Linked DNA regions of Homo sapiens: region 2 is linked to region 1. Evidence: fine-mapped expression QTL. A gene starts in region 1. The other region holds a variant in brackets. All regions are shown on one strand. Distances are between the middles of the regions.

What was found. PIP is the estimated chance that this variant, and not a neighbour inherited with it, causes the effect. A credible set is the group of variants that fine-mapping cannot tell apart.
Region 2: its variant is the best candidate, but not a certain one, in a credible set for the expression of SLC33A1 in whole blood (INTERVAL, PIP 0.62).

Annotation. Positions count from the first base shown.
Region 1 is chr3:155,848,839-155,858,465 of GRCh38, forward strand. It overlaps SLC33A1 (solute carrier family 33 member 1), which reads right to left and starts at 5,589. Exons shown (of 6, transcript NM_004733.4): 1 at 4,385-5,589. The coding sequence starts at 5,159. LOC105374174 (a long non-coding RNA gene) reads left to right here and starts at 5,915. Exons shown (of 3, transcript XR_924607.4): 1 at 5,915-6,240; 2 at 9,414-9,494. RefSeq lists enhancers at 5,177-5,246, 5,617-6,176, 9,140-9,239.
Region 2 is chr3:155,821,834-155,831,460 of GRCh38, forward strand. It overlaps SLC33A1 (solute carrier family 33 member 1), which reads right to left. Exons shown (of 6, transcript NM_004733.4): 5 at 7,855-8,070; 6 at 1-6,544. The coding sequence ends at 6,377. Among named protein-coding and RNA genes, the nearest start is that of C3orf33, 20 kb to the left of the region's middle. The variant GTTTT/G (reference allele first, on the strand shown) is at 4,700.

The DNA.
Region 1 (9,627 bases):
ACCCAATATATTCCATCTCCATTTATCTGTAACAATCAAAACTGTTAATTACAGATAGTATTTCATTTATTTTTTATTTATTTATATTTTTGGAGATGCAGTCTTGCTCTGTCACCCAGGCTGGAGTGCAGTGGTGTGATCTCGGCTTACTGCAGCCTCCACCTCCCCAGTTCAAGTGATTCTAGTGCCTTAGCCTCCCTGAGTAGCTGGGATCACAGGTATGCGCCACCACACCCGGCTAATTTTTTGTATTTTTAGTAGAGCTGGGGTTTCACCATGTTGCCCAGAGTGGTCTTGAACTTCTGAGCTCAAGCAATCTGCCCACCTCAGCCTCCCAAAGTGCTAGGATTACAGGTGTGAGCCGCTGCACCTGGCCAGAACATATTTTAGAATTAAAAAAAGAAAACAATTACGCTTCCTTTTAATACTCAGATTTTCTAAACATTGCCTCAGTGTTTAGCTCCTCTTTAATCACCTAAGCAATTATATTTCCATCATATAATTCTTCCTGTGCTATATAACTTTTTCAAAACCACTGGTTTTTCTTATCCTATTAATAAGTTCCAGAAAGAACAATGTTATAAATGTGGTATGTTCAGTCATAAAAAGGAGAATGAAACTATAGGAATTCTAACTTTCAACTAAAATGTTTGAACCAGAAACAGCAGTCCACTACAGATATAAACAGTTGAATTAAAAAGTAAGCTAGTTATAGAATCTACTGCAGAACAAAGTTCAAATTCCACAGGAAAAAAAAAAAAAGGGGCAATTCAAAATAACAAGTGACAGCCAGGCACAGTGGCTCACACTTGTAATCCCAGCACTTTGGGAAGCCGAGGTGAGCAGATCACTTGAGGTCAGGAGTTCAAGACCAGCCTGGCCAACATGGCGAAACCCCATCTCTACCAAAAATACAAAAATTAGCCAGGCATGGTGGCACACGCTTATAATCCCAGCTACTAGGGAGGCTGAGGCAGCAGAATAGCTTGAGCCCTGGAGGGGGAAGTTGCAGTGAGCTGAGATCATACCACTGCACTCTACCCTGGGCGACAGAGCGAGACTCCATCTCAGAATAATAATAATAATAATAATAATAATAATAATAATAATAATAATAACAATTCACTGCCTAGAAATACTCTGTGAATGCATACTGTCTGTTATCAGTTTGTTGCTTTTTTCTTTTTTGAGATGGAGTCTTTCTCTGTCGCCCAGGCTGGAGTGCAGTGGCGCGATCTCAGCTCACTGCAACCTCCGCCTCCCAGGTTGAAGCGATTCCCCTGCCTCAGCCTCCTGAGTAGCTGAGACTACAGGTGCATGCCATCACACCGGGCTAATTTTTGTATTTTTAGAAGAGACAAGGTTTCACCATGTTGGCCAGGATGGTCTTGATCTCCTGACCTTGTGATCCTCCTGCCTTGGCCTCCCAAAGTGTTGGGATTACAGGCGTGAGCCAACGCGCCCAGCCAGTTTGTTGCTTTTTATGTGTCTGCTTTTCATTTTGTCCTGAGACTGCTGTTTATATCACCACAGAGGATTAAGGAGATGATGTTACTTAAGATGAGAAAGCCTCAGTGAAATCAAGGTTTAAGAGGCCATGGAAACTAAATTGCTAATTAGCTAAATTGGAACTTTCTCTTAATGTAAGAGTGATTGGTAAAACATCATTCCAGAGAATAATGTTATGAGTTCAAGAGTTATTATATTTATACTCCCTTAGCCACAACTGTTCCCTAATGGATCAAAATTATGCCACTGGATTTTAATTTACACTGACTTATTCTTTTTTTTTTTTTGAGATGGAGCCTTGCTCTGCCGCCTAGACTGGAATGCAATGGTGCGATCTCGGTTCACTGCAACCTCTGCTTCCTGGGTTCAAGCGATTCTCCCCACCCAGCCTCCTGAGTAGCTGGGATTACAAGTGAATGCCACCACTTCCACCTAATTTTTGTATTTTTAATAGAGAAGGGGTTTTGCCATGTTGGCCAGGTTGGTCTCAAACTCCTGATCTCAGGTGATCTGTCCACCTCAGCCTCCCAAAGTGCTGGGATTACAGGCGTGAGCCACTGCACCAGCCTTGACTTCTTTATTTTAATTTTATTTTTAATTAATTAATTTATTTTGGCTGGGCGCAGTGGCTTACGCCTGTAATCCCAACACTTTGGGAGGCCGAGGTGGGCGGATCACAAGATCAGGAGATCGAGACCATCCTGGCCAACACAGTGAAACCTTGTCTGTACTAAAAATACAAAAATTAGCTGGGTGTGGTGGCACATGCCTGTAATCCCACTACTCAGGAGGCTGAGGCAGGAGAATGGCTTGAACTAGAGAAGTGGAAATCGCAGTGAGCTGAGGTCCTGCCACTGCACTCCAGTCTAGTGTCAGAGGGAGACTCCATATAAAAAATACATATATATAATTTTAAGACAGGGTTGCACTCTGTTGACCAGGCTGGGGTGCAATGATTGGATCATAGCTCACTGAAGCCACAATCTCCCGGGCTGAAGCAATCCTCCTGCCTCAGCCTCCTGAGTAGCTAGGGTTACAGGCCTTCGCAAAACACCCAGCTATTTTTTTTTTTTTTTTAATTTTTAGTAGAGATGAGGTCTTGCTGTATTGCCCAAGCTGGCTCTACCTCCTCAGCTCAAGCAGTCCTCCCACCTCAGACTCCCAAAGTGCTGGGATAACAGGTGTGAGCCACTGTGCCCAGTCGTGACTTATTTTTTATTTTATTTATTTATTTATTTTTGAGACAGAGTCTCAAAAATGGGGTTTCGCCATGCTGGCCAGGCTGGTCTCAAACTCCTGACCTCAAGTGATCCTCCCACCTCAGCCTCCCAAAGTGCTGGGATTACAGGTGTGAGCCACTGTGCCCGGCCAGCAGTGAATTATTCATAAAGCAGGAGTGGAACCCCAGAACACTGAGACAAATCTACCTGGGTGCAAAGCAATTATCTCTCAACCAAACAACTGAGGAAAAAGTACTATCACCATCATTTCACCAGTAATAGTGGCTCACTCATTAGCAGTTTGAGGAGGTGTACATAAGGTTAGATGTCTGTGAGAATAAGATTGCAGGAAAATAGTGTAGTTGTGACACCTCCTACCACCACCACATACCTGGACATTTACTCTACTGTGAATTTCCAAGGTAGCACAGAAGCTGAGAAGTTCAGTTGCTTAAATTTCAAAACAGAATCCCCTAAATTCATCATCACTGACAGAATGAAGAATTTCACTATATTCCTGACATTGTTATTCCTGATATTGGTCATTTTACTTGTTTTCTAGTTGTTACAAAAGTTAAAAACAAACAAACAAACAAAAAAGCTTAGGCCAGGTGGGGTGGTTCACACTTATAATTCCCAGTACTTTGGGAGGCCAAGGAGGGGGAGAATCACCTGAGGCCAGGAGTTCAAGACCAGCCTGGCCAACATAGTGAGACAGCCCCCCCGACCCCCAACTATCTCAATTAAAAAAAAGAAGAAAAAAGAAAAAAGAGAAAAACTTACATGTGTTTTACTCATGCAGAGAAACAGGGAAATTTTTTAGAACTTACCCTCCATTACTTACAGGACAAACTTTAAACTCTTTTCCCATAGTAATTAAAGAAAATCTTACTAATTTAGTCACAGCCTTTCTCAGCACGATTTCCCAAACCCAGTTCCACAATTTAGGCAATGTCCTGTACTTTTTTGTACTTTCCTGCCTCAGTGCACTTTTACTTTGTGTTGTGCATTCTGGTGTGCCATTTCCTGGCCTCGTGGAATCTTATTCAAGAACAAAGTCAAATGTTATCTGCAATGTGAAGCCTGACTCCCAAAGGCAGTTACTAACTGGCAACTCTGAACTCTCCTAAAATGTTCATCTTCCTTATTTCTTGAGTGCAGAACTCTGCCTTATTCATTAGAGGCCTTAGAATCCCGTCCCTTAGCTGGTTCAATAATGTTTGAACGAATAAACCCTGTTCCATTCACTAGAAGGCTGGATTCTGGGTACAACGGTAGGGGTAGAAATGGATTAGAAAGTATAGAGCTAGAAACCTAAAACCAACAAGACAAAAGGAAAAATGTGAACCATATGAGCCACACTTTTTAAAAGTGTGCATTTGTGTATTAAGCAAGTGGCATGAATCCCTGGACTCGGTTGTGTTATTTGATGGGTTGCCTCTCCCTGTTAACCGCATAGTGATCATTTGATTGCTCTAATATCATTCATTTTGGCTTTAATATTTCAAAGAAGCTCATTTGGACGAAACAGAAAACTTACCTTGAGTTATCTCCCATACAATGATTTCCAGTAAATTAATGAGCTTCCCTCCAACGTCACACACTCTTTCAAAAGGATAAATAAACCTAACACCATAATAGCTTAAATACACTACCTGAAAGAGTAACGATTCCTCTGGGTTGAGGCTGAAACCGCAAATATTTGTTACAAAAGTCGGCAGATTCAAGGGCCAAAAACAAAACATTGCCCAAAAAGTAACCCGCTGTTTGGCCCACCGAATTGCAAGTAGAAGCATAACCCACATTTTCCCTGGATAACATAGTTAACGCCCAACCATCGACGGCAATGTCCTGAGTGGCGGCCAAGAATTCAAACAAAAAGAACGCCACAGTGAGAGCAATCACGTCGGGTGTTCTGTCATCGGTATTCCCAAGCAAACGGTCCACCTGAGTGGATAAATAGATCATGAAGAGTCCTAGTATATACTGTGTCGGGACAAGCCAAGATTTGCGACGACCGAAGTTCTTAACGTAGACCGCATCAACCAACGGGGCCCAGAGTAATTTGAGACTGAAGGGCCAAAAGACAAAACTGAAGAAAGCTTGGTCTGTATAGCTAACATTTTTGCTTTGCAAAATGAGTGGGATGCTTCCCGCCAAGCCCAGGGGAATACCCTGAAGCACGTAAAGAAAGAGTAGTAGCAAAATGCTGCTTAGTTCGGCCCGGAAGCTCTGTGGGGCTTTTAAGAAGTCGCCAGTGCCGGTATCCCCCAGAAGAGCTTCTCTGTCCCCTTCCCGGCCCGCTGAGTCCAAATGACTGTCATCCCAACCGCCTGGCGGCAGGGGACCGCTCTTCATATCCAGAGAGTGACTGAAATTCCCTGGCCGCCGTTGCCGGCTGCTGTCCTTGTGGGAGATGGTGGGTGACATATCAGAGACGATGCAGAGCCCCGTCTGTGGGGGGCCGAGGCTGAGCGTTTTGGATCCGTCCAGTCCCAGGTCCAAGGCTGTCGCGCTGGACCAGGGTTTCGGTGGTTCACGGGATGGTGGCAGGGCTCAGAGCGATAAGGGCACTTCTTACTGCAGCCCGGAGTGCTGAAGCCGGGAGCCAGTCCTCTGGCTAGAGGCCCAGAGGATGCCTGGATAGGTGCCCCCTGGAACGGCGTCAAAGAGCCTGAAGGAGACCCCCGGGCAGCAGCGCCGGGCTCGAGGCTGGAGGTGTGTGCCGTGGTGCCAGGATGGAAACCAGCTCCTACCTGCGGCGGGATCGAACGGCTGGTCTCCCGACCCAACACCTCCAGCTCTCGCTGCTATCAATGCGGCAGAGAGCACTTTCTCTACAGGACTCCAGAAAAAGCATATAACTTCCTGCCTCGCGCTTCAGGAAGTGGTCCCAGTCTCTAACAGGTCCCTTCCCAGCCTCCAGAGCAAGCCAATCAGGGACACGCTCTCGTGGCCCAGTTCGGAAACAATGCTTGGTGGGAACCTGCAATCTTGGCTGCCGGAACCTTCGGGGAGGATTAACGCCGGCGCACCGTGCGGCCGGGGCGGGGCGCCGCCCAAACTCAGGCCCTGTGACAGCGACTGTGGCGGTCTGGAAAGCGTGGGCCTCGGTCATTGGGCACGAGCGGTCACGTGACAGCGGGTTCCTCCAGGCCAGCGCTGGTGGTTGAGTGATGTAATCACGTGGGGTCTGAAGTCTTCGTGGGTGTAGGTTTCTTCGTTATGCTGACGACAGGCAGTGCCCGAACTCTAGGCTGGGAGTTGTGCCATGCTGCTGCTTTCGTGGGCTGACCAGAAAAGGGTAGAAGGATTGACGTTTACGAAGTTTTTGAATCAGGAGGCAAGGTCGCCTTGTGCCCCCAAAAGGATAGAAAAAGGCCTGGCAAACTGGAGAATCGCGTCCTTACGGTGCCTACATATTTATAGTACGAATTAAACTGCTCAAGGGGTGCTAGGTTTGTCTGCAGTCCGTTTCTCCCTCATGGTGGAAGACGCGTGGGGAAACTTGGTAACCAACTCTAATTACATTGGTGATTGGAAGACTCGTTACATCCTGTTTTTATGTTGCAATAAAACGTCTTGTGGCCGGGCGCGGTGGCTCACGCCTGTAATCCCAGCACTTTGGAAGGCCGAGGCGGGCGGATCACCTGAGATTGGGAGTTCAAGATCAGCCTGACCAACAAGGAGAAACCCGTCTCTACTAAGAGACGTACAGGAATTTGAGAATCTGATTAATTTTTTTTCTGCTCTCTCACCTCTGGCAGAAAGATTATTATTTTTTTTTCTTTTGAGAGGAATCTCACACTGTCGCCTGGGCTGGTGTTCAGTAGGGCCATCTCGGCTCGCTGCAGCCTCCACCTCCCGGGTTCAAGCGATTCTCCTGCCTCAGCCTCCCGAGTAGCTGGGACTACAGGCACGCGCCACCACGCCCGGCTAATTTTTGTATTTTTAGTAGAGACGGGGTTTCACTATGTTGGCCAGGCTGGTCTCGAACTCCTGACCTCGTGATCCGCCTGCCTCGGCCTCCCAAAGTGCTGGGATTACAAACGTAATGGCAGGCTAGGCACAGTGGCTCACGCCTATAATCCCAGAACTTTGGGAGGCCGAGGCGGGTGGATCACGAGGTCAAGAGATTGAGACCATCCTGGCCAACACGGTGAAACCCCGTCTCTACTAAAAATACAAAAAATTAGCTCGGCCTGGTGGCGCGCGCCTGTAGCCCCAGCTACTTGGGAGGCTGAGACAGGAGACTCGCTTGAACCTGGGAGGCGGAGGTTGCAGTGAACCGGGATCGTGCCACTGCAATCCAACCTGGCGACAGAGTGAGACTCCGTCTGGAAAAAAAAAAAAAAGGCAACTGTAAAGTCCTCTAATCTTTGTTAAGTAGAAGAATAGATTGCAGAAAAGAACAGTGTTGGCCGGGCGCGGTGGCTCACACCTGTAATCCCAACACTTTGAGAGGCTGAGGCGGGCAGATCACTTGAGGTCAGGGGTTCAAGACAAGCCTGGCCAATATGGTGAAACCCTGTCTCTACTAAAAATACAAAAATCAGCTGGGTGTGGTGGCTCATGCCTGTAGTCCCAGATACTCGGGAGGCTGGGGCTGGAGAATCGTTTGAACCCGGGAGGCGGAGGTTGCAGTGAGCCGAGATCATGCCATTGCACTCCAGTCTGGGTGTTAAAGAAAAGAACGGTGTCATTTAAGTCCAATCAAGATTAAACCAAAACAACCATGAGTGGGATTTATATTGTGCTGGATTCAAACCCTGGCTCTAACAGTAGTTGTGCCTTGGACAGATTACTTAACCTAAGCCTCCATTTTGATGAAAATTAAAATAGAGTTCATAACATCTATTTCAGAGAGTTGTGGGAGTTAAAGGAAGCAGCCAATAAAGCCATTCACAATCAGTAGGTGTTTTTTTTTTTTCCAAAAAAAAAGGAAATACTTGATGAGTTTGTATGTCTTGTGTTTGATTTTTTCCCCTTCTTTAATTTGAAATAATTATAGATTCACAGGAAATTGCAAATATAGCAGAGTCCCATATACCCTTCACCCACCTTCCTCTGATCATTGCCTCTTACGTGATTATAGTACAATATTAAAACCAGGAAACTGACATCTGTAAAATATTGTTAACCAGACCACAGGCTTTATTCCAATTTCACCAGTTTTTACATGCACTAGCTTGTGTGTGTGTGTGTGTGTCCTGTGTTACCCTTTCATAGTGCTATCCCTTATAGTACTACATATTAATAGTTGCACCAGTCCACTGTCCTCCTCCCTGTTCTTTGGCAATCACTAATTTGTTCTCCACGGCTATACTTACGTCCTTTCAAGAATATTATAAAAGTGGAATCATATAGTATGCAACTTTGGGGATCAACTTTTTTTTTCATCCACCAAAATGTCCTTGAGATCCATTTAAGATGGTAATATATCAGTATCAATGTATGTCCGTCTTTCTTTTAAATCACAGAGTATTAGTCCATTGTATAGATACCAAATCAGTTTTGAGTTTTTTTCATTTTTTTTTTTTCTTTTTTGAGATGGAGTTTCGCTCTGTCGCCCAGGCTGGAGTGCAACAGTGTGATCTCGGCTCACTGCAACCTCCACCTCCCGGGTTCAAGTGATTCTCCTGCCTCAGCCTCCTGAGTAGCTGGGACTACAGGTGTGTGCTACCGTGTCCCGCCACATCAGTTTTTAAATAAGGAATCTTCTTGGAAATAATTGATTTCTCCCTACATATAAGAATGATTCCCCTTTAGTGGTTCAATTATCTTCCTATCAAATGTTAAATCTTTAGATCTATGCAGGCAAGAGTTACAAACAATAGGAAAAATGACTGGAGGCAAATATCAGGAAAAGTGTTTTTCATGTTACCCCAATTCAATGTGTATGCATTATTAAAGTGATAAGGTGGGCCAGGGGCAATGGCTTATGCCTGTAATCTCAACACTTTGGGAGGCCAAGGCAGGTGGATCACTTGAGGTCAGGAGTTCAAGACCAGTGTGGCCAAGATGGTAAAACCCTGTCTCTACTAAAAATACAAAAATTATCTGGGTGTGGTGGTGAATGCCTGTAATCCCACCTACTTGGGAGGCTGAGGTAGGAGAATCGCTTGAACCTGGGAGGTGGTGGTTGCAGTGAGCCAAGACTGTGCCACTGCACTCCAGTCTGGGCAACACAGTGAGAAGAGAATCCTCCAGCCCCAAGGTGAGCCACCCCTGCTAATGCTAAATAAAGAGTAGAGACAAGTATTCGTTGCTAAGCCATGCCCAAATTGCTGTTGTCTTCTTAGAAGACTTAGTGGTAGTATCTTTCCAACACAAACTAAGACATTTCTCTACAAACCTGGGAACACCACCCCCACCAGGCCCTCAGTGTCCCTCAGCAAATGTGGAACAAATGTCACTATCACTATGAAAACAAAACTGATACCGCATGGGACCTTCAGCCCATACTGTCATGAATAGCTGTTTTTGTTTTTTGTTTTTGTTTTTTTTGCATTTTCAACTCCCCTAACTCACTTCAGTTAATATCATTTCCCCTTTCTTTTGGAATACTGGTGTTCCCTGATTGATGTGTTTTGGGGAAGCTGGTGAAACTGCCAAATATAAAACCCTTCTGGTGGTCGCCATGATCCTTTCTTGCTTTTTTTTTTTTTCCTTGTCCCTTTATAGGTATCCTGTGTTTTCCAGTTGAAAGCTTGTGAAAATTCGCTTTATCCTTGAAGTTCAGAATTTTCACCAGGATGTATGAAGGTATGTATTGTATAATACATATATGTTTTTCTATTAATCTTGTTCAACATTTATTAGGTCTTTTTTAACAAAGTTTCAAATCTTTCTTGATTTTAGAGAAATTTTCCTTAATAATATCTTTGCTTTTTCATTT
Region 2 (9,627 bases), 27 kb before region 1:
ACAATCTCGGCTCACTGCAACATCCCTCTCTCAGGTTCAACCGATTCTCCTGCCTCAGCCTCCCAAGTAGCTGGGATTACAGGTGCCCACCACCATGCCCGGCTAATTTCTGTATTTGCAGTAGAGACAGGGTTTCACCATGTTGGCCAGGCTGGTCTCAAACTCCTGACCTCAAGTGATTCTCCTGCCTAAGCCTCCCAAACTAATGGGACTACAGGTGTAAGCCAACACACCTGGTTCAAATATGCCACTTTCTTAAATATCAAATTTTTTTCCAATCTTATATTTCTCTAATTTTATAGGGGCAGGTGATAAAAAAATTTCAATTTCACTAACTCTGACTACAAAATTAAACTTTTCCAACATTTAAGATCATTTCAAGGAAAATAAGAATAGGCTTTAATATTTACATTAGTGATTGATTAATTGTAGCTGACTGGGGTATTCAATTTTAGAAATTTAAGATAATTCCCGCCAGGTGCAGTGGCTCACACCTGCAATCCCAGCACTTTGGGAGGCCGAGGCAGGCAGATCACGAGGTCAGGAGTTTGAGACCAGCCTGACCAACATGGTGAAACCCCGTCTATACTATACAAAAAAATTAGCCAGGTGTGGTGGAAGGCACCTGTAATCCCAGCTAATGGAGAGGCTGAGGAAGGAGAATCACTTGAACCCAGCAGGCAGAGGGTGCAGGGAGTCATGCCACTGCACTCCAGCCTGGGCGACAGAGCAAGACTCCATCTCAAAAAAAAAAAAAAAAAGAAATTTAAGATAACTCCCTAAGGATTGTACCTGTACCTTGTGCATTTCAGTCATGCCATTTAATCATTATTCTTCACATAAAATTGTTATAAAGTTATATTGTCTATATTGACAATAAAAAACTATTAAACTGTAGCAACCTTTTTCTAAATGAGTCAAGACTTCTTATGAGCTATGCAAATTAATATTGCTGATATTTAAATATGATCTCTTTCATTACACATTTGGGCAAAATTTTTTTAGAGTAAAGGTGATTAGTCATAGAACTTTCTTTCTTTTTCTTTCCTTTTTAATTAAAAATAGAGATGCAGTCTCCCTGGTCTCGATCTCCTGAGCTCAAGCAATACTCCTACCTTGGCATCCCAAAGTGTTGGGATTAAAGGTATGAGCCACTACACCCAGCCCATAGACTTTTCATTTACTATATAAAGTCTTTTTCTCCTACAAAATATCCATTCTCCTTCCCCAAAATAAACAAGGCTCCTTAAAGGCAATCTTTATAATCCATAGTCAAATAAAAGTTTTTATTCACTTAAGCAGGAGGGAATGAGTTCAGCACATTAATTAGTCTGCCCTGCTATAAGACCTGCCTCTTCCAAAACAGAATTCCAATAAGGAAAATAAGCTATCCATGCTGATTCTACCTTGCTAGCAAATTGGGGAAGTAACATGAAGACTCTAATAGTGGTTTGACTGGTAGAAAATGAAAGAGCTCTCAGTCCCAAACCAAATGGTGATTACATAAAAAATTTGGCATTGTCAAATCAGGCAGATACAATCTAAAGTAAAAAGAGCCAGCAGCGGTGGCTCACGCCTGTAATCCCAGCACTTTAGGAGGCCAAGGCGGGAAGATCACCTAAGGTCAGGAGTTTGAGATCAGCCTGGCCAACATGGCAAAACCCCATCTCGACCAAAAATACAAAAATAAGCTGGGCGTAGTAGTGCACATCTGTAGTCCCAGCTACTTGGAAGGCTGAGGCAGGAGAATCGCTTGAACCCGGGAGGCGGAGGTTGCAGTGAGCAGCTTGGGCAACAGAGCCAGACTCCATCTCAAAAAAATAATAAAATAAAATAAAGTAAAAAGAACATGGTCTGCAGTAGGTGTTTTTGTTTTGTTTTTGTTTGTTTGTTTTTGAAACGGAGTCTCGCTCTGTCGCCCAGGCTGAAGTGTAGTGGCGCAATCTCAACTCACTGCAAGCTCCGCCTCCCGGGCTCAAGCAATTCTCCTGCCTCAGCCTCCCTAGTAGCTGGGATTACAGTCGTGTGCCACCCTATGCCTGGCTAATTTTTGTATTTTTAGTAGAGACGGCGTTTCACCATGTTGGCCAGGCTGGTCTCAAACTCCTGACCTCAAGTGATCCACCCACCTCGGCCTCCCAAAGGGTTGGGATTACAGGCGTGAGCCACCATGCCCAGCCTGCAATAGGTATTCAAAATCCTCCCTAAGAGAAAATAATTGTGCCTCGCTATCTACCAAAGACATTGGTTAAAAAAAAGTCTCAGCAGTTACAATGTACAGTATCACCTTCCCTTCTGTAACCAAAATACTTATTAAATATATGAATGCTAGTTATCAGATTATTTTAAAAGTTTATTTTCTTTCTCTAATAATAAGGTAAAATACATTTTGGAAATCTGCATGGAATGTTCCCAACAAGTTATTTCATTTTAGCAGGGTCTATGACATACAGCTTTAGTCATTCTTTCAATTACTTGGAACCACAGAATTCTCCAAAATACAAAAATTAAATTTTCAGCTTTTATATCAAATAATGGTCTCAACCATTTAATACAAAGCAACATACTTTCTCAGGTTTCTGTTAATAAGGCAAAATAAAAGTCACTCAGAAAAAAAAGGTTAAATCATGAAGATTTCTCTTTTGTAGGATATAATTCACCCCTGTGGTTTCTCTTCTACCATTAATGTCTTATCTACTCTAATTCCTTCAAAGTTTCAAGTTCAATACAGTATAACATATGCAGAGATTTTATAGTTTTTATCATAGATTTTTTTTTTCAACATTGTTTTCAGGATGTTTTAAACACTTTCACAACTATTACCTCAGATTTGTGATTATGGCTTATAGTACGGTCTACTTTCAAAACCATGATTTTTGGATCATGGCCCATCCAAGATTTTACTCTGTTCAGAAAAAGAAAAAAAATTACATATCCAGAGTTTCACAAGCAATTCAGGGGTTTTTCCCACAGACATCAAAAACCTTGCAATAAAGGGGTGAAATCCAAAAATTACTTTCGATTTCAAAGGTTTAATATTTTTAAAAAATTGAGAAATCTATTTAAGGTGTTGAATAAACTTTTTATGACTTATCAGGCAAAATTAAAATATTTATCATGGGCAGGGCACGGTGGCTTACACCTGTAATCCCAGCATTTTGAGAGGTCAAGGCTGGACGACTGCTTGAAGCTATGAGATTGGGACTAGCCTGGAAAATATAGCGGACCCCACCTCTATAAAAAATTATTATTTTTTATTAGCTGGGCATAGTGCTGTGTGCCTGTAGTCCTAGCTACCAGAGAGGCTGAGGTGGAAAGATCCTTTTTTGTTGTTGAGACAGGGTCTCACTCTGTCACCCAGACAGGAATGTAGTACCACAATCACTGCTTACTGAAGCCTTGACCTCCTGGGTTCAAGTAACCCTCCCGCCTAAGCTTCCCAAGTAGCTGGGACTACTGGTGTGTACCACCATGCCTGGATAATTAAAAAAAAAAAAGAAGTCATAAAGACAGGTTCTTATTATATTGACCAGGTTGGTCTTGAACTCTTGACCTCAAGTGATCCTCCTGCCTTGGCCTCCTAAAGTGTTGTGATTACAGGTGTGAGCCACAGCATCCAGCCTAAGGAAGATCCCTTGAGCCTAGGAATTTGAGGCTGCAGTGAGCTATGATTGCATCACTGTACTCCAGCTTGGGCAAAAGTGAGACCATGTCTCTAAAAAATAATAATAAAATAAAATAAAGTATTTACAATGGAAGGAATCTGTGGTGTTACTTTTAGGTAATCTCAGAAGAACTTTTCAAACTCAGATGTATATATGCGGCAACCAATGTGCATATGGAGATACTGACATAGAGAGAAAAATGTTCAATCTAATATTAGCCAGTAAACATATGATGCATTAACTGGAGGAGTTAAAAGTCCATACTTGAAGGTACTGTTTAATTTATCAGGATCAATCAATCAAGAAAAACACCCACAACATAAAAACAGGGTGGTATATTTTAGTACTACTGATTTATAATAAACAGATCCTCAGATTTAGGCAGATCATTTTTAAATGCCATTAGTGATCAATGTATGCAACACAGTTGCACATAGCTATTAACAAGTTATTTTGACATGCATTACATACATGTATTCAAATTAACTATAATTTTTTGTGCTTATTTCTAGAGCAAATTAATTAAATGGCTTTCACCTTAAAGGCTTAAAATGTTTTAAAACTTCAAGTCATTAAAGATGTACTGACATTAAAACTATGTTTGAAGGCTGGGCGCAGTGGCTCATGCCTGTAATCCCAGCACTTTGGGAGGCCGAGGCGGGTGGATCACTTGAGGTCAGGAGTTCAAGACCAGCCTGGCCAACATGGTGAAACCCCATCTCTACTAAAAATACAAAAATTAGCCGGGTGTGGTGGTGTGCGCCTGTAGTCCCAGCTACTCAGAGGACTGGGGCAGGAGAATCACTTGAACCCAGGAGGCAGAGGTTGCAGTGAGCCGAGATTGCACCACTGTACTCCAGCCTGGGTGACAAAGTGAGACTCTGTCTCAATTAAAAAAAAAAAAAACTATGTTTGAAAGTATATATAATTTGTAATAATATACACGGGAAGAAATAAAAGGTTATTATGGCAATCTGAGTTTCTTAATCCAAAAATTAAAAATCAAAACACATTTCATATGTAAGAGTTAAGTG[GTTTT/G]TTTTCTTTATTCAAGTAATCATTTAGACTCTAATACATGATAATGGACAACCATGTGACAAAGTACTGTAGTGTATGGTTTGGTGTAGCCTCCTTGCCTCTAGGATGGGATTTTTTCCAGGTGATTCTTCAGGATCTGACATCGATGCCCAACACAGGCTTTCCAATGGCAATGCATGAGTTCTAGAGGTCACTGCCCCATCTTTCTTCAGGTGCTGTGTGCCATTTTCTCCCACCCATTTTATCCTCCATTACTTATAAAAACCCCACTCTAAAATTCAACCTATGTTATAAAATTAACAAAATCAGGAGTTAGTACACATTTTTCCACAATGATAAAATTAAGACTCATAATGTACTATCTTGTTTCGTCTAACTTTTGGAGGATTTATATAATCTCTAAAGAGTCAGAGTAATACATAACACAAAACATGCAAAGAACCTTATCACTGGGTGTATGTAATACGCTGGGAATTGCTAAAGTACTCAAAAGCTTAATTTTCTTGGAATAGCAACTGTCCACTGAAAACTATAGTATTCAAACAAAAGGTTATGTGTTAATACATGAAAATACAGTACCTGATTTGGCATAAATTGTGAGATCTTTTTCACTAGTAAAGTGCTTAATTAAGAAACATTTTTCCACTATTAGATTTAATTTGTCAAAGGCACAAAATATCTTTGTCTCTCTCTTTAAAGTATTAGTTTTTTAAATTATGGTACTGCCCATTTAAATTTTACTTAATCAGAAAGCTTTACTGTTTTTTTCTCTCAGCAATTAAAAAAAAACTACTTGAAGAAAAACATTTAATTTTTATTTTCAAAATGTTGCCATAAACATACATACAACACTGAATTTGATCCCCTCCATTGGCTGTCTGTGTGCCAGGAAGCACTTGTGACAGAAAACATATATAAGCTTAGGGTAAAAGTTTATAAGGAATCAAAATATCTTCCAAAAAGAGGGGGTAGGGGCAAGAGGAATCAATAAGTTTAAAAATCATAACTTTCATTTTATAAAAAATAGTTTGAATAATTTTCTTATAAATCTTTAATGCTTACAAAAGCAGGAAATACATTTAAAATAGTCTTTTTAACACAGATTCATTTGTACAATGTGGTCATAAGAAAAATAACTAAAATGACATTTCAGTAGTCTATATTCTTTTCTCAGCAAATTCCACATAAAATTTAACTAATTTACAATTCAAAATAAGATTTTAACTGCCAACAATGTCAGACTAGTTGTGGTTAGTACCTGAATATCAAGCTCTTCTCCATTTTATATATTGTACCAAAATTTTAAATACAGCTCAGCAGTGATAGGTACTAATAACAATACCTGACTACATGGTTACCACCCGTGACTACTGCATTGCAGCTTAAAACATGCTTTGGTCAGTAAATTTAAAAGATATACATCAAATAACAAGGCCAGAAAAGTTGTTTTAGAATTTCCTGACCTTAAGTAAACTTTAAATACATTGACAAGGCAAAAAAAAAATATGATCAAATATACAGAAAGGTTTCTATTTTTTCAACCATTTGGCATTTTATATTATTAATTTCGCTGTTTAAAATAATATTTTATACTCCTGTGCACTGATTATCATTGCTCTCCGAATTAAAACTAAACTACAATTACCTTGCTAGAATGTCCAGTAGCATATATATTAATTGTTCCTTTTGCATTTCCACGAAGATGATCCTTCATCCTGTAACTTTTTAAATTTTGGACCAAGAAAGAACCACCAACCAAATCCAATGAAAACACAAATAATGGACTCCACATAATAACCATCCAGGGCTGTAACACATGAGCCACCCAGTTTTTTGCAAAGCTGTAAAAATAAAACTATAATAAATACTCCACAATTTCAAAATGAAAGTATTTAGCAATTAACATGCTTCTACTTTATAAAGAATAAAAATATATTTTTCTTAAAACATTTCAGTATTTCACTGAATTCCAATGACAAAATATGTTAATGTATCTTAATCTCTCTAATGCTACTAACAGGATTAAAAACAATTTTCAGTTCTTGCTGTAAACAATACTCATTTTCTTTTTTGAGACACGGTCTCACTTGTGGCCCCGGCTGAAATGCAGTGGTGTGATAATGGCTCACTGCGGTCTCTGGCTCCTGGGCTCAAGCAATCCTCCCACCTCAGCCTTGTGAGTAGATAAGACCACAGGCGTGCACCACCATGCCCCATTAATTTCTACATTTTTTGTAGAGATGGTGCTTCACCATGTGGCCCAGGGTGGTCTTGAACTCCTGGGCTCAAGCAATCTGCCTGCTTCAGCCTCTCAAAATGCTGGAATTACGGGTGTGAGCCACCATACCCAGCCGAATATGTTTTTTTTTTTTTTTTTTTTTTAAGAGACGGAGTCTTGTTCTGTCGCCCAGGCTGGAGTACAGGGGCGCGATCTCAGCTCACTGCAACCTCCGCCTCCCAGTTCTAGCAATTCTCCTGTCTCAGCCTCCTGAGTAGTTGGGACTACAGGCACACACCACCCCGCCCGGCTAATTTTTTGTATTTTAGTAGAGATGGGGTTTCACCGTGTTGCCCAGGCTGGTGTCAAACTCCTGAGCTCAGGCAATCCACCCGCCTTAGCCTCCCAAAGTGCTAAGAATACAGGCGTGAGCCACTGCACCTGGCCCGATTATCTATTTTCACGATGCAGCTTTCACATTCGGAAATGTGAAGAAATTTCCAGTCCATCTACTCTAGAAGTAGACAAATACCACTTTGAAAGAATTTATCAACAAACCACTCACTATACAGGTTTAGTTATCACTGTTATAGGAATAGCCAATGGACATTCCCTTTTTCTATCACTACAAAACTTAAGCTATTAATTATGCATTTATATAGTGCCTGCTGTGTAGGACAGTGATCGTCAAGGTGGGGGAAAGAGAGATCGCCTCTCCTTTACTGAGAAACGCCTTTAAGGGAACTAGTCTTGCTGATTTGAATGATTATAACCCTCAGCCTTGATGTGAAAGAAAATATATATGTAGATTTCTAAACCAGAACCTATGGACAGATATGATTTTTAAAAAAGATATAGTACTTCTAGAGACAAAACAAAGATATTAATATCTTAGTATTAGCTTAATGTTATCTAAAATTAAAACATACTTACCTCAACAGCATCAGGTGTTCGACAATTCTGGTTTGATGCTCCTACACACTCTTTTACTGTGAGGGGATCTACAAGCCAAAGAGCTACTGTAGAAGGCCAGTTTCCTCCCAGATTGGACACGGTATTTAAAAGGGTCATGTATGTTCCTCCAATAAGTGGATCACTAACCTTTGCATTGAAAGCCATTATAGAAACATACATGCTGTACACTGTAACCTACGGAAAAATGTAAAACATCTTTAGTATGATTATAAAGCTTATAAAGCTACAGTCTAAATTAAGAACATCAAAGTCATAAACCTGAAATTAATTTTCATGGTATTTATTGAACTCAATTCAACAAATACTTATCAAGCACCTACTATAGGCCAGGCTTTAAGATCACAGCAATACAGGCCGGGCGCGGTGGCTCATGCCTGTAATTCCAGCACTTTGGGAGGCCAAGGCGGGCGGATCACAAGGTCAGGAGATCGAGACCATCCTGGCTAACACGGTGAAACCCTGTCTCTACTGAAAAATACAAAAAAAAAAAAAAAATAGCCGGATGTGGTGGCAGGCGCCTGTAGTCCCAGCTACTTGGGAGGCTGAGGCAGGAGAATGGCGTGAACCCGGGAGGCGGAGCTTGCAGTGAGCTGAGATCGCACCACTGCACTCCAGCCTGGGCGACAGAGGGAGACTCAGTCTCAAAAAAAATAAATAAATAAAAATAAATAAATAAAAAAAAAGATCCCAGCAATACAAAGATGTGACCTTGGTCCTTCTGTGACATTGAAGAATTTATTCTAGGCTGGAAAATGGGGAATAAATAATTATAAATACAGGAAGTACTGTAAATAGAAGTGCACACATTGTGTTACTGGGGCATAAAGATAAATGAGAGATTAATTCTACCACAAGTAGTCAAGAAAGACTCCACGGAGAAAATGTTAGATGAGGTGGCACTAAAGGATACATAATGCATACAGCAAAATGCAAAACCTCATATTTGTACTGTACCTAAATATGTATCATATATTGCATGTGTATATATACATATTTATATGTATGCATTTATTACATATATAAATACTCAAATATTTAAAGAAATAGGAATATATATATTTTTCTCCTACATATACACAAGAAAAGTATTTCAAAATTTATGTGACAAACTGGAGAAAAACATCCTTAAGAGGCAAAAAGTACTTAAAAGGCAAGAATTAACCTTTAATTTAGAAAGATGGAAACAAACTGTGTTTCAATAATGGTATTCCTTTGAATAGTGTTTTTGGGGGTGTTCACAGAAAAAGGAGTTCCAAAGTCAAATAAGACTGAAAGACACTAACTTACACAAAATTGAAAAGGTTCCTTTCATTGTATGCCTTTTGAAATATTTACAACATACACTCCTTGAGGGCAGGGATTTGGGCATGATTTATTAAGTTATATTTCAGTACTCAGAATGGTTTCTGGCAGGGAATAGGTGTTCACTTAATATTTGTTGAAGAAGCTGGGTGCGGTGGCTCACACCTATAATCCCAGCACTTTGGAAGGCCGAGGTGGGCGGATCACCTGAGGTCAGGAGTTCAAGACCAGCCTGGCCAATGTGGTAAAACCCGTCTCTACTAAAAATACAAAAATCAGCTGGGTGAGGTGGTGCTCATCTGTAATCCCAGCTACTTGGGAGGCAGAAGCAGGAGAATCACTTGAACCCGGGAGGTGGAGGTATCACAGTGAGCCGAGATTGTGCCACTGCACTCCAGCCTGGGCAACAGAGTGAGACTCTGTCTCAAA